Regions from separate parts of the Homo sapiens genome. Here region 1 is linked to region 2. The links come from fine-mapping of genetic effects on gene expression. A gene starts in region 2. The other region holds a variant in brackets. All regions are shown on one strand. Distances are between the middles of the regions.

The links. PIP is the estimated chance that this variant, and not a neighbour inherited with it, causes the effect.
Region 1: its variant is the best candidate, but not a certain one, in a credible set for the expression of LINC01990 in tibial artery (GTEx, PIP 0.90).

Annotation. Positions count from the first base shown.
Region 1 is chr3:107,458,273-107,463,655 of GRCh38, forward strand. LINC01990 (long intergenic non-protein coding RNA 1990) reads left to right here. Exons shown (of 3, transcript NR_110039.1): 2 at 2,401-2,518; 3 at 4,301-5,383. Among named protein-coding and RNA genes, the nearest start is that of LINC01990, 30 kb to the left of the region's middle. The variant T/G (reference allele first, on the strand shown) is at 2,408.
Region 2 is chr3:107,428,577-107,433,959 of GRCh38, forward strand. It overlaps LINC01990 (long intergenic non-protein coding RNA 1990), which reads left to right and starts at 2,354. Exons shown (of 3, transcript NR_110039.1): 1 at 2,354-2,382. RefSeq lists a silencer at 2,900-3,149 and an enhancer at 3,360-3,549.

The DNA.
Region 1 (5,383 bases), 30 kb after region 2:
ACCACTTTGGAGCTGTCACCCTTATTAATCTGCTACTTGCTTGAAGAGCAAAGATTATATCTTTTTCATCTTTGTGGCCCAAGTACCTACTGGGGAACTTAACACATAGTGGACACCCATTAAATGATGGTTGAGTTGGATCTTGAGAATTGAGGAACAGGCCAAGTTAAGAAAAGTAAGGGCCAATGCCAAGTTGGGGATGGAAGTGGAAGTATCTCAATTTTCAACTTCTGGTGTTATATCAAAAGGAGGCCACACCTGCTGTCATCAATTTTTTATCTGAATTTAAAATGTTAATCTATTGAGTGGGAACATTTAAAATATGTCATAATTTGTGTAATCCTGTTTAGCGTATTAAAAAATACAGAAATGCTAAACAGGATTACACATATGGAAGTGGCCTGAGATGCTCCTGACAAGTTGAGAGTCCCCAGGAATAACCATTGTTAAGTGTACATGTGAGATAGTAACTTTTAAACTGTGTTGCTAAGAGAAACCTGAGAGTTCAGTAGAACTCCCTCAGGGACCACTTTAGAGGGAATGGGAATGAAGGGTCTGAGCTGAGCCTATGGGCCTGTGGACTCACAACCCATCCCTATCCAAACAAGGAAGCTTTTATTGATTTCACTTTTTTTTTTTTGACACAAATAAGGTTTTATTTGGAAAACAAAGGCAGGTTTTGGGTTTTTCCCCCTGCTAAATACATTGTGAAACTTACATGCTAGGAAAAAAAGAGGAGATGAATAACAAGATTAACCATGAAGACTTGGCTGGAACTGGACAGCCTAAATTGGCAGCAGGCCAGAACAGCATGGTCCTATTGGCAAGGCAAATATAAGAAGGGATTAAAATGACCAAGCTGTCTAGGGAGACAGTATGGAGGAGGGAGAGTGACATACTTTGAGTGTAGAGCCCAGATTTTAGTCCAGCTTCATCACAAACTAGCTCTATAGCCTTGGATAGGACACTTAACCTGAGTGGATCTCAGTTTCCCCATTTGCAAAACAAGGTCATTGGTCTAAATGACTTTCGAAGTCTGGGGTTCCTACTCTAAGACTCTGTGATTCCAGGGGGTTAATGTAGCAGTGCAGGTGATTGACAGTAATTTCCAGGCTTCACATTTATTCATTATTATCAGAGTAACCCCATTTTTGCATGGTATGAGGACCAGAAAAGAAAGATGAAAAGTTTAGGAGTTTGATATTGCAGTATAGAGTTCTTAGCTCAGATAATATCTGATATTAACTGGGCATTAAATACTGCTATTGTACTAAGCACTCTATCCATAACATAGCATTTAATTCTCACAACATCTCTATCAGGTAGGTACTGTTATCCCAATTATAAAGATGAATAAATTGAAGTTTAAAAGACTGTCATTTGCCTAGGGTCATACACCTAATAAGGGATACAGCAGGGGTTTAAATCCAGGGATTCAAATGCATATCTTTATTTTTTCCCCTATTCATGTAAAGTCTGCCCATATTATAAAGTCCTAAAGAACTAGGCTTCTTACCAGCTTAACTCACTTTATACAACCATAGCACATGGCTTCAGGCATGCTGGCACCTAGTGGGAATCTTTTTATAATGATGATGCCAGTAGTGTTGACAATATTAATGCTGGTTAAACAGAATTTATCTTTGAAATGCAAGTTAACAAACAGAATCTAGAATTTCAATATCAGTTCTATTCCACTGCTTGTATGTAATTCTACAGGAAACTCTACTGCTAAAAAGAAACTATGAAAGAATGGATGCATTTTCAGAGAAGTTCAAAAATTTCAAATTCTACTCTATGAATTAGGTAGATGTGTAGGTGGCAGAAGTGTCCAAAATATTTCACATTTTGGTAGCTTGTAAAATAGATAAGTTTAAAAAAACCTTATATTTGTAAAACATTACCAGACCACAGAGAAACTTCATAAATACTATTTCAGTTAATTTTCACAACCCCATGAACATTATCATCCCATTTTAGAGATCTAAAAACTGAGGTTTATATAAGTTAAATTTTTTTGCCCAGGGTGAGATAGCTAGTAAGTGGAAGCAAATTTTTATCTTTAGACTCCAAGTCCAGTGTCTTTCCATTACACTACAAGATACTTTACTAAAATGCACATTATGTATCAGTAAAATATAACAGCTATTACCTGCTAGAATAGAATTGATTAGTTTTGCCCCCTAGAGGATAAAATTATATATTTTCCAAAGATTTGGTTGCTACAGGTAACAACTTGGAGTTATAATATTAATAATATTGTATTAATATTGTATATTTATATAATAATATTGTGATATAGATGGATTAAAATATGTGGCTAACACTTTAAAAGAGGCAAATAAAAACAAAACCAAACATAAGTTTTTTTTTGAGATGGAGTCTTGCTCTGTCCCCTAGGCTGGAG[T/G]GCAATGGCGCGATCTTGGCTCACTGCAACCTCCGCCTTCCTGGTTCAAGTGATTCTCCTGCCTCAGCCTCCTGAGTAGCTGGGATAACAGACATGCATCACCACGACCAGGTAATTTTTGTATTTTTAGTAGAGACAGGGTTTCACCATGTTGGCAAGGCTGGTCTCGAACTCCTGACCTCAAGTGATCCACCTGCCTCGGCCTCCCAGAGTGCTAGGATTACAGGCATGAGCCACGGCGCCTGGCCCAAACATAAGTTTTGTTGTTGTTGTTGTTGTTGTTGTTTTAAATTAGGACTGTGAGCACAGCTAAATGCACTATTCTGTGTATATAGGACTAGGTAATGTATCGCTATTTTAATGTTTTTAGGATTTTAAACCTAACTATTATAAATCAATAGTTTATGGTTGGACTTTAAGCTACTAGGGGTTTTGATATTTAAAGAGCTTAATTTTCTTGATCACAAGGAGAAAGCTTATATGCAGTATGTTCTTTAAATCCATACAGATTTGGAGCATCCTCTGGCTCTATTGCTAACTACCTGTGTGACCTTGAAGAAATGCATTAACCTCTGTATCTATGTTTCCTCAAATTTATATGGGGCAATCATTCCTATGATTGCTTTGAAAATTAAATATGGAAGTGTCAACAAAGCATATGGTGGAGGATCTGGTGCTCAAAGAATATTAGTTATCTTCCTTAAGGAACTTGTGAGTATTGGTATATTGGGCTACAATGTGCCTGCTACAAAACCAAAACCAAAAACCCCTTCATCTCTACTTGTCTCTACTACTAATGTCAGATAGTAGACATTAATATCTGACATTAAAGAGTGAGCTATTTAGCACCCCCTCTGGTACCTTGTTCACAGCCAGGAACTTGGTAGGTGCCCAATAAATGTTAGTTGAATTAAACTGAAATCAAATTACCACATCCCCCCAGGGTCTCAAGTGTTTAATTAGAAGCCCACCATAGTCAGTATCTCATTGGCCAGTATTCGGCCAATATATAAAAGGATGTTGTCCTTGTAACATTCCTCCTTGGTCTCTGGGCCCTGCTTTTTTGTCATGGTTCATTCCAGCTGAACTAAAATTTCCCCAAACATGACTGAAGCGATGGGCCGAATCTAACAAGATTAAGTTTAATAGGGATAAATGTAAAGACTTATACTTCAGTCCAAAAAGAATCCTGTACAAGTGCTAGATGGAGAATATGGGGATTAGCAGCAACATGTGTGAAAAGGACTTAGGGGTTTTAGTTGATATTAAGCTCAATTAGTCAACAGTGTGCTTTTCCTAACAAGAAAGTTGACGTGAACTGAGCCTGCATTAACTCCTGCACCAGCCTGGCGATTACCCGACTGCACTAGTTTTCAAACTTTAGCTATATCAGAATCACCTGGCAGGCTTGTTAAAACACAGACCATGGCCCCATCCCCCAGAGTTTCTGATTCAGTAGGTCTGGGGTGGGGCCTGAGAATTTGCATTTCTAATGAGTTCCCAAATCAGTGCTAATGTTGCTGGTTCTGGGATCATACTTTGGAAATCACTGCCCTCCTTTATTTTGCCTGGTCAGGTAACACGGGTACTATTAGTAACAAAAATAGTGAAGAGACTGAAAACATAAGAGGGACAAGGAAGGAAGGAAAGAAATGAAGAGTTGTTATGTGCTATAGTGATATTAGTATGAATAATAATAATAGCTAACATTTGTTGAGAGTTTATTATGGGCTGGAAGTTCTACCAAACATATCATATGCAATTAATGACGGTAATAATAATAACTACCAACCAGATAGCACTTACTGTGTGCCAAGTTTTGTTCTATATGCTTTACATATTTCACCCTTACAACAGTCCTAAGAGGTACATATTACTATGCTCATTTTTCAGATAAGGACACTGCAGCCCAGAGAAGAAACCTGCAAAGGCCGTGTTCACACACTCACAAGAGATATGGCTGTGATTTGGATCCAGATGTGATGGGCTGACAACAAAACTCCTGTGATACCATGAAGTCTTCGGGAGGCAGAATTGAAGTGAACATGAAGTTTAGCTTAGAGAAGAAAAGAATAAATACATACAAAACATTTGATGGTGAATAAACAGAAAATGGTGTATTCAACAGAATTTGACTCAGCAATAAAAATGAACCAAACTATGGAAAACAACACCCAACAACAGGAAGAAATCTCAAAATAATTATGGTGAGTGAAAGAGGCCAGACCAAAAAAAAAAAAAAAAAAAGACTAGAAAATGTTAACTACCCAATAGTGATGAAAAACAAGCAGATCAGTGATTGCCTAGGGAGTGGAGGGAAGGGCACCCTGAAAAGAGGTAGGAAGGAAGGGATGATAAACAGGCAGAAGGAAACTTTTGAGGGTGGTGGATATATTCACTACCTTGATGGAGATGCTTGCAAGGGTGTCAAAATGCATCACATCGTATGCTTTAAACATGCACAGTTTATCGTATGTTAATTATAGTTCAATGAAGCCAAAAAACATATTTGAATTTAAATATGTTTAGTACAATCCACAAATCCTATGAAGTAGACCAGTATTATTGTTCTACTAATAACAGATTGAAAATTGTGTTCAGTATACCTATAAAACAGGTAATTTTGACAAATAGCCCCTTCAGCATATCTAATGTATACTCAATATGTCTTACCAATTTCCAAGTAGAAATTATCCATTAAGTAATAACTTAGGTTCTATTAAAACCTAATTCAATGGAAAAAACCTATTACTAAATTCTAGCTTATTAAAAACCAGTTTGGCCATAAGAGGTCACGAATTCTAAAAACTAATAATACTTAAATAAATTACTTAAAATTACTTAAGTATTAAATAATACCTAAATATATTTACAATAATAATAGTAGTAGTAGAAGTAATGCCATTTCCTTATTAAGTTTCCCATTTTAAAAAATACCTTAAAAACTCTGAAATTTTTCTTCTGAAATAAATAAGA
Region 2 (5,383 bases):
CACAAAGAATAATCTGTGTTCTCAAATGCCATAGTGACCTCTGTCCCACGGTTCAACAGCTGTAGGGCTATCCATAGAAGCAGCTGGGCCTCTGGTTTCTCTTAGTATCATGAACCCAATATGGAAATCCTCCCCCTCAGATTTACTCACATTACTTCCCTGACCTTTCCTTCCTCTAATTCCTCCTCTCCCCTCTCAGATACAGATTTTATACTTTCCTACAAATGTTCTGACTTTAATTAGTATTCATCATTAATTTGAAGAGAGTCTATATTCTGACATCATGATATGAACTTTCCATGTTAATGAAATTTCTGACAATTTAGTGTGCTATTGAAATTCTTCCCTTCTCTAGTGGTTATGGTTGCATTTCTAAAATCTGTTATGATGTTGGAAGAATTACATTAAAAGTAGATATCATCAATGTTTTGTTCATTATTGTAATAAAATGAAAACATCTTAGTGTTGTGTTATAAATCCTATAATTAGTCTGTAATCCTTCCCTCCCTTCCAAAGGTATTTCAGGGATTAGAGTTTTTAATTGTGCGTGAGATTCATAAAGTAGGGGCACAGCCTTGTTACTACTATTACACATTTTTTTTCATTTGGATAATTTAGCCGTTATCACTTCAAAAATCTATTTAGAGATGACTATAATAGCTAGTCTCTACATTTTTACATTGGATTTTTCTTTCTTCCAAAAAAATTACTGCTCCACAAACCCCAAATATATTTTTAATTTAGGGAAAAAGTGCTTATATCTGAGAAAATGTGGATTTGGAGAATATATAGAACCTTTCCTCGGGAATTCCGAAAACTCAAGCGCTCTGGCTTACCAAGTGAAGTAGGTTTTCAGGAAATCCCAGCCCCTCAGGACTCTCGATCTGAACCAATCCCAGCTGCCATAGCTCCGCGCTCCCGGGATGGGGCTGTGTTGCCCACGCCTCGCGGCGCGGGCGGACACACACCCTGCTAGGACTAGCTCAGTCCTCCCAGTTTCCCTTCCGAGATGCCTCGGAATCTTTACCACGGTTATCAAACGATTCTGTGGATCAGTAGTTCCCAACTTCTAGGGACAGACGCCCTTTTAAAATTCAACGTAACAGACCACCACCCTCCAAACAGACTGTGATAGCCGTATTTTTAAATTCTCTACTGATTGAGAAAACTCAAAAACAATTAAAAACTCCAATAGAGCCTACAGTACTTTCAAATGACTGTATATTTTAATTATAGCATTTGCATACAACTGAGTTTATTTATCTATGCTGTACGCTAAGTTTAGGGGCAGGCTTGGTGCACAGATGGTTTCGCCCACCCTTTGCACAGGGCAAGCCCCCCCCAGGCGCCCAGGCTGGGAGGCCCAAGTCCCGGCAGCTGCTGCGGTGGACTTAGAGGCAGCAGCTCCTGCTTCTGCCCCAAACGTTCAGTGTAGTCGGATTCCCGGGGACAGCAGGGCAGTCTGCGCGCACATCCCCGGGGCATCGCAGGACACCTGCTGCCCCCTATCGGTGGTGAGAACAATAACCCGAACCCGGTTGGAATCAACTGGAAGAGGCCTTTTGAAAAAAAGAATATTCCAGGACTACGCAGTAGCCAGACGACTCTCTAAGAACATGGGTTTCCGCAGTCAGCTCCGACTGCCTCGTTTTAATGCAGTTTTTCGCCATTGTAGGAGAGCATGCTGGATCGAAGAGGACTCTGACACTGCTTCGGTGAAGGCGGGGAGTGGGGAAGGGGGGGTGTTGAAGGGGTTCAAGATACACCCAAGGGTCTATTTGTTTTCCACCTCCCTATTCAGCAACCCATCTGGTCCTTATGCAAAGCACTTGCCTTCTCCCGGGATGGGGACACACATCAGAGCACAGCGTGGTGTTTTCCCAAGCCCCCGAGGCACCTGTTCCCTCACATTACACCTTGAGGAGAGTCCAGTGACCTCTGCTGCAGAGGCGACAAAGGCTCCCTGGGAAGCCGGCCTCAGTGGTGTCCAGGAATGGCTTTCAAACAGCGTGTACTCCTGTGGTCCCTTTAATAAACATAGGACTATGCTTCAGAAAAGCAAAAATAAATGCCGAGAAGTAAAAGGAAGCTATCGGTTACCCCGTTACCTCTGAAGCCTGTATATGTGAAATTTTCTTCTGAGACCGAGCATTAAAATTTGCTTCCACTTGGACATAGCCAAGATTGCTAACAGGCTGGGAACGTGTGTGTGTGCGTGTGTGTGTGTGTGTGTGTGTTGCTACATACTCTGGGATTTCTAATTTTATTTTCATCACTTTCTCCCCGCTTATTACTACCCCCCCACCCCAATACACACACACTTGGCAGTATCCTAACTTCTTCACTCTTGTCCACATTTGTCTTGGCGCTCTGGGGAAGAAGGTAAGAATAGATAGACGAACGAAGGTGCGTGCAAGAAAGGAGGGAGGGGAGGAGGTACGGTCGGCTTGCACACCAGACTGTGCTTGTTTGAGCAGGAATAGTGGCGGGGTGTCTTCGAGAGGATAACGGAAATGCCCCACCACACGCCCACAGCGCAAGTGCCGGCGTCCCCAATCGGCCAGTGGCAGCAGCAGAACCGGGGTCCACTTGGCACCTCAGGGGCTCTCGCCCGTCCGCTCTGGGCGTCGGGCTGTCCAGTTTCCCTGGGAATCTGGGAGAGGAAGGAGGCTTAGCTAGCTCTGTTCTCCCTGCCAGTACGCTGTGGCGGCGGCCCCTGGCCAGGGCCCGGCCAACTCCCCGCTCTTGGGTGGCTGCAGGTGCCCAGTGGCCCATCCCCAGCGGGGGCGAAACGCCGAGCTGGCCGAACCTTCCACACGTCCAGCTCGGAGTGCGTCTCAGTCGCGCGGCAGAGGCCCCTGGGCCCGGGCGCTCTGGGTTCCCGCGGCCTGTGGGCGCGGTGCACAAGGGCGCGGGCGGGCGGCGGCAGCTCCCAGGCGGAAGGCGCGGCGGGGCCACGGTCACCGCCGCCGCCGCCGGGGCTCGGGCGGAAGCGCGGGCTCCGGGGGGAGGGGCTGCCGCGCCCCCGCAAGGCCCAGGGATCCCGGCCCCGAGCGGCTCCCATCCGAGCAGCAGCGGATCCCGGGCCGCCCTTACCCTCGCCGGGCAGGGATGAGCCCTGGTCAGGTTCAGCCGCAACCCCGCGCGCGGCGGGGCGAGGCCGAAGCCCACGCAGGTCCGCCCGGTGTGCGTCTTTCACTCGCACACACTGAGCCCCTTGCCAGGCGCGCAGGCCCGGGCTACGAGGCCGGCTGCTCCGCCGTCTGCCACCTCCAGGACCCAGAGCCGCCAGCCCTGGGCTCCCGGCAAGCTGTGACTTCCCGGATGGGGCCATGCTTTTCTTCCAGGACAATCGGGGCTCCTCCCCTCCCGGCGATCTTTCTAGGAGGCCACCTCCAGAGATTGCGAGGCGATTTCCTCCCTGCCGGTACCAAACTGTAACTCCTCTCGCTACAGACGCGGAGAACCAAACGCTGACTATTTGGCGAGGGACCACCACCACCCAGAAAAACACACGGTTCAGTGTGCGTTGATTGTTTGCATCAGCGAGTTCATGGCGAATAGAAGTTCTCTATTTTTGATAGCCCTGATTTTCAAGCGTTTTAAAAGTTACGTTCTGTTTTCTGCTTGGTCAACAACACGGAAAATGGAATATTGCTTTTTTTGTGATTCAAAATCAATTGTAGTTACAATGACTTTGAGAATTTCACGGCATCTTGTGAGATAAAATGGAGATGCGCACCTAGGTGAGAGTCACTGGAGTGGATTACGCAGTGGCCGGCTGGATCCGGCTAACAGTCTCTGAGGCTCATTCCTTTTCGTAATCAGCTCGCCCACTCTAGTAGGACTTTCATCTTTAAATTATTTTTTAATTATCATGAGGCTCTCAGTCTAAGATAGCAAAGATTGAGCGCCACATTTAAGCAGTTCTCTCAAACTAGCTTTACCTTTTTAGGGAAGTAATTCCTGGGCTAATCATTTCAGATCTGAGAACAAAAGAAGTTGCTAAAAAAAAAAAAACAACTTTTATTTACGCAGCAGATACTTATGGATCGTCTACCTTGCACCAAACGCGCGCGCGCACACACACACACACACACACAGTGAATACTGTGGGCTATACAAATAATATATAACATCTGTTGAATGATTAATATGTGACAGGCAATATACTTGCTACTTAAAAAGGATTCTATCATTTTACCCTCCCGGGGACATATGAAGTAGAGATATTATCATCCCTGCTTTACCTATGAGAAATATACGAGTCATGAAGTAACTTACTCTAGGTCACCCAGTTAATAAGTGGCAGGACAGGACATTACACTTTACGCCCAGTCTGATACAGAGACCTCAGCCCAACCTCTACAATGTGTCCTTCAGTCAGATCTGGGAATCTGTATATTTTGGAACCACCTTAGGTGAATGTGATAGAATTAGAACTTGAGAAGCCTTGATGTAATCAAACTTCCTCATTTTCCTGATCAGAAAACAAACTCAAAGAAGCAATTTTTCTGGAAACACACAATTGCAGAAAGAGATTCAGAGAGGCTGTTCCTGGTTTCTTGGCTAAGGTCCTTTCTACTATCCAGACTACATTGGCTCAGTCCAGGAGGAGTCAAAGAAGGTAAATAATTCAACAGTTACAAAAAGTGTACAGTCAAATCTTGATTATCCTTAGTTTCCCCTTCAAATTGCTTGCCTTCTGGATTTTTGACTGTTAATCTAGTTTCTCTCCCAGAGGGAGAGAGAAACCGTGTGAAACTCGATTATTTCATTTCTGCTCATGTTACCTGGTAAGAACGCTAATATTATAAAGGAAAATGGGGGCCAGGCATGGTGGCTCATGCTTGTAATCCCAGCACTTTGGGAGGCCAAGGCAGGAGGATAGTAGAAGTTCAAGACCAGCCTGAGCAACACAGACAATCCATCACTCCCCCCCCCGCAACCCCCAGCCCCACCCCCACCCTATCTCTGCAAAAAGAAAAAAAAATGGGCATGGTGGTGCATCCTGTAGTCCTAGCTACTCAGGAGGCTGAGGTGGGAGGATCATTTGAACCCATAAATTCATGGCTGCAGTGAGCCATGGTCATGCCACTGCACTCCGGCCTAGGTGTGGTGGTGTGCACCTGTAGTGCAGCTATTCAGGAGGCTGAGATGGGAGTGTTGCTTGAGCCCAGGAGGTCAAGGCTGCAGTGAGCCATAGTGCACCACTGTGTACCAGCCTGGGCAACAGAGAGACCCTCTCTCAAAAGAAAGAAAGAAAGAGAGAACCATGCAGACTACTGCCTTTTCTCAACAACTCTGAGCAAATTATTTCCTTTACCTAAAATCATTTGCTGATCTCCCATCCATTCTACAGGATAAAATTAAAATTAGACTT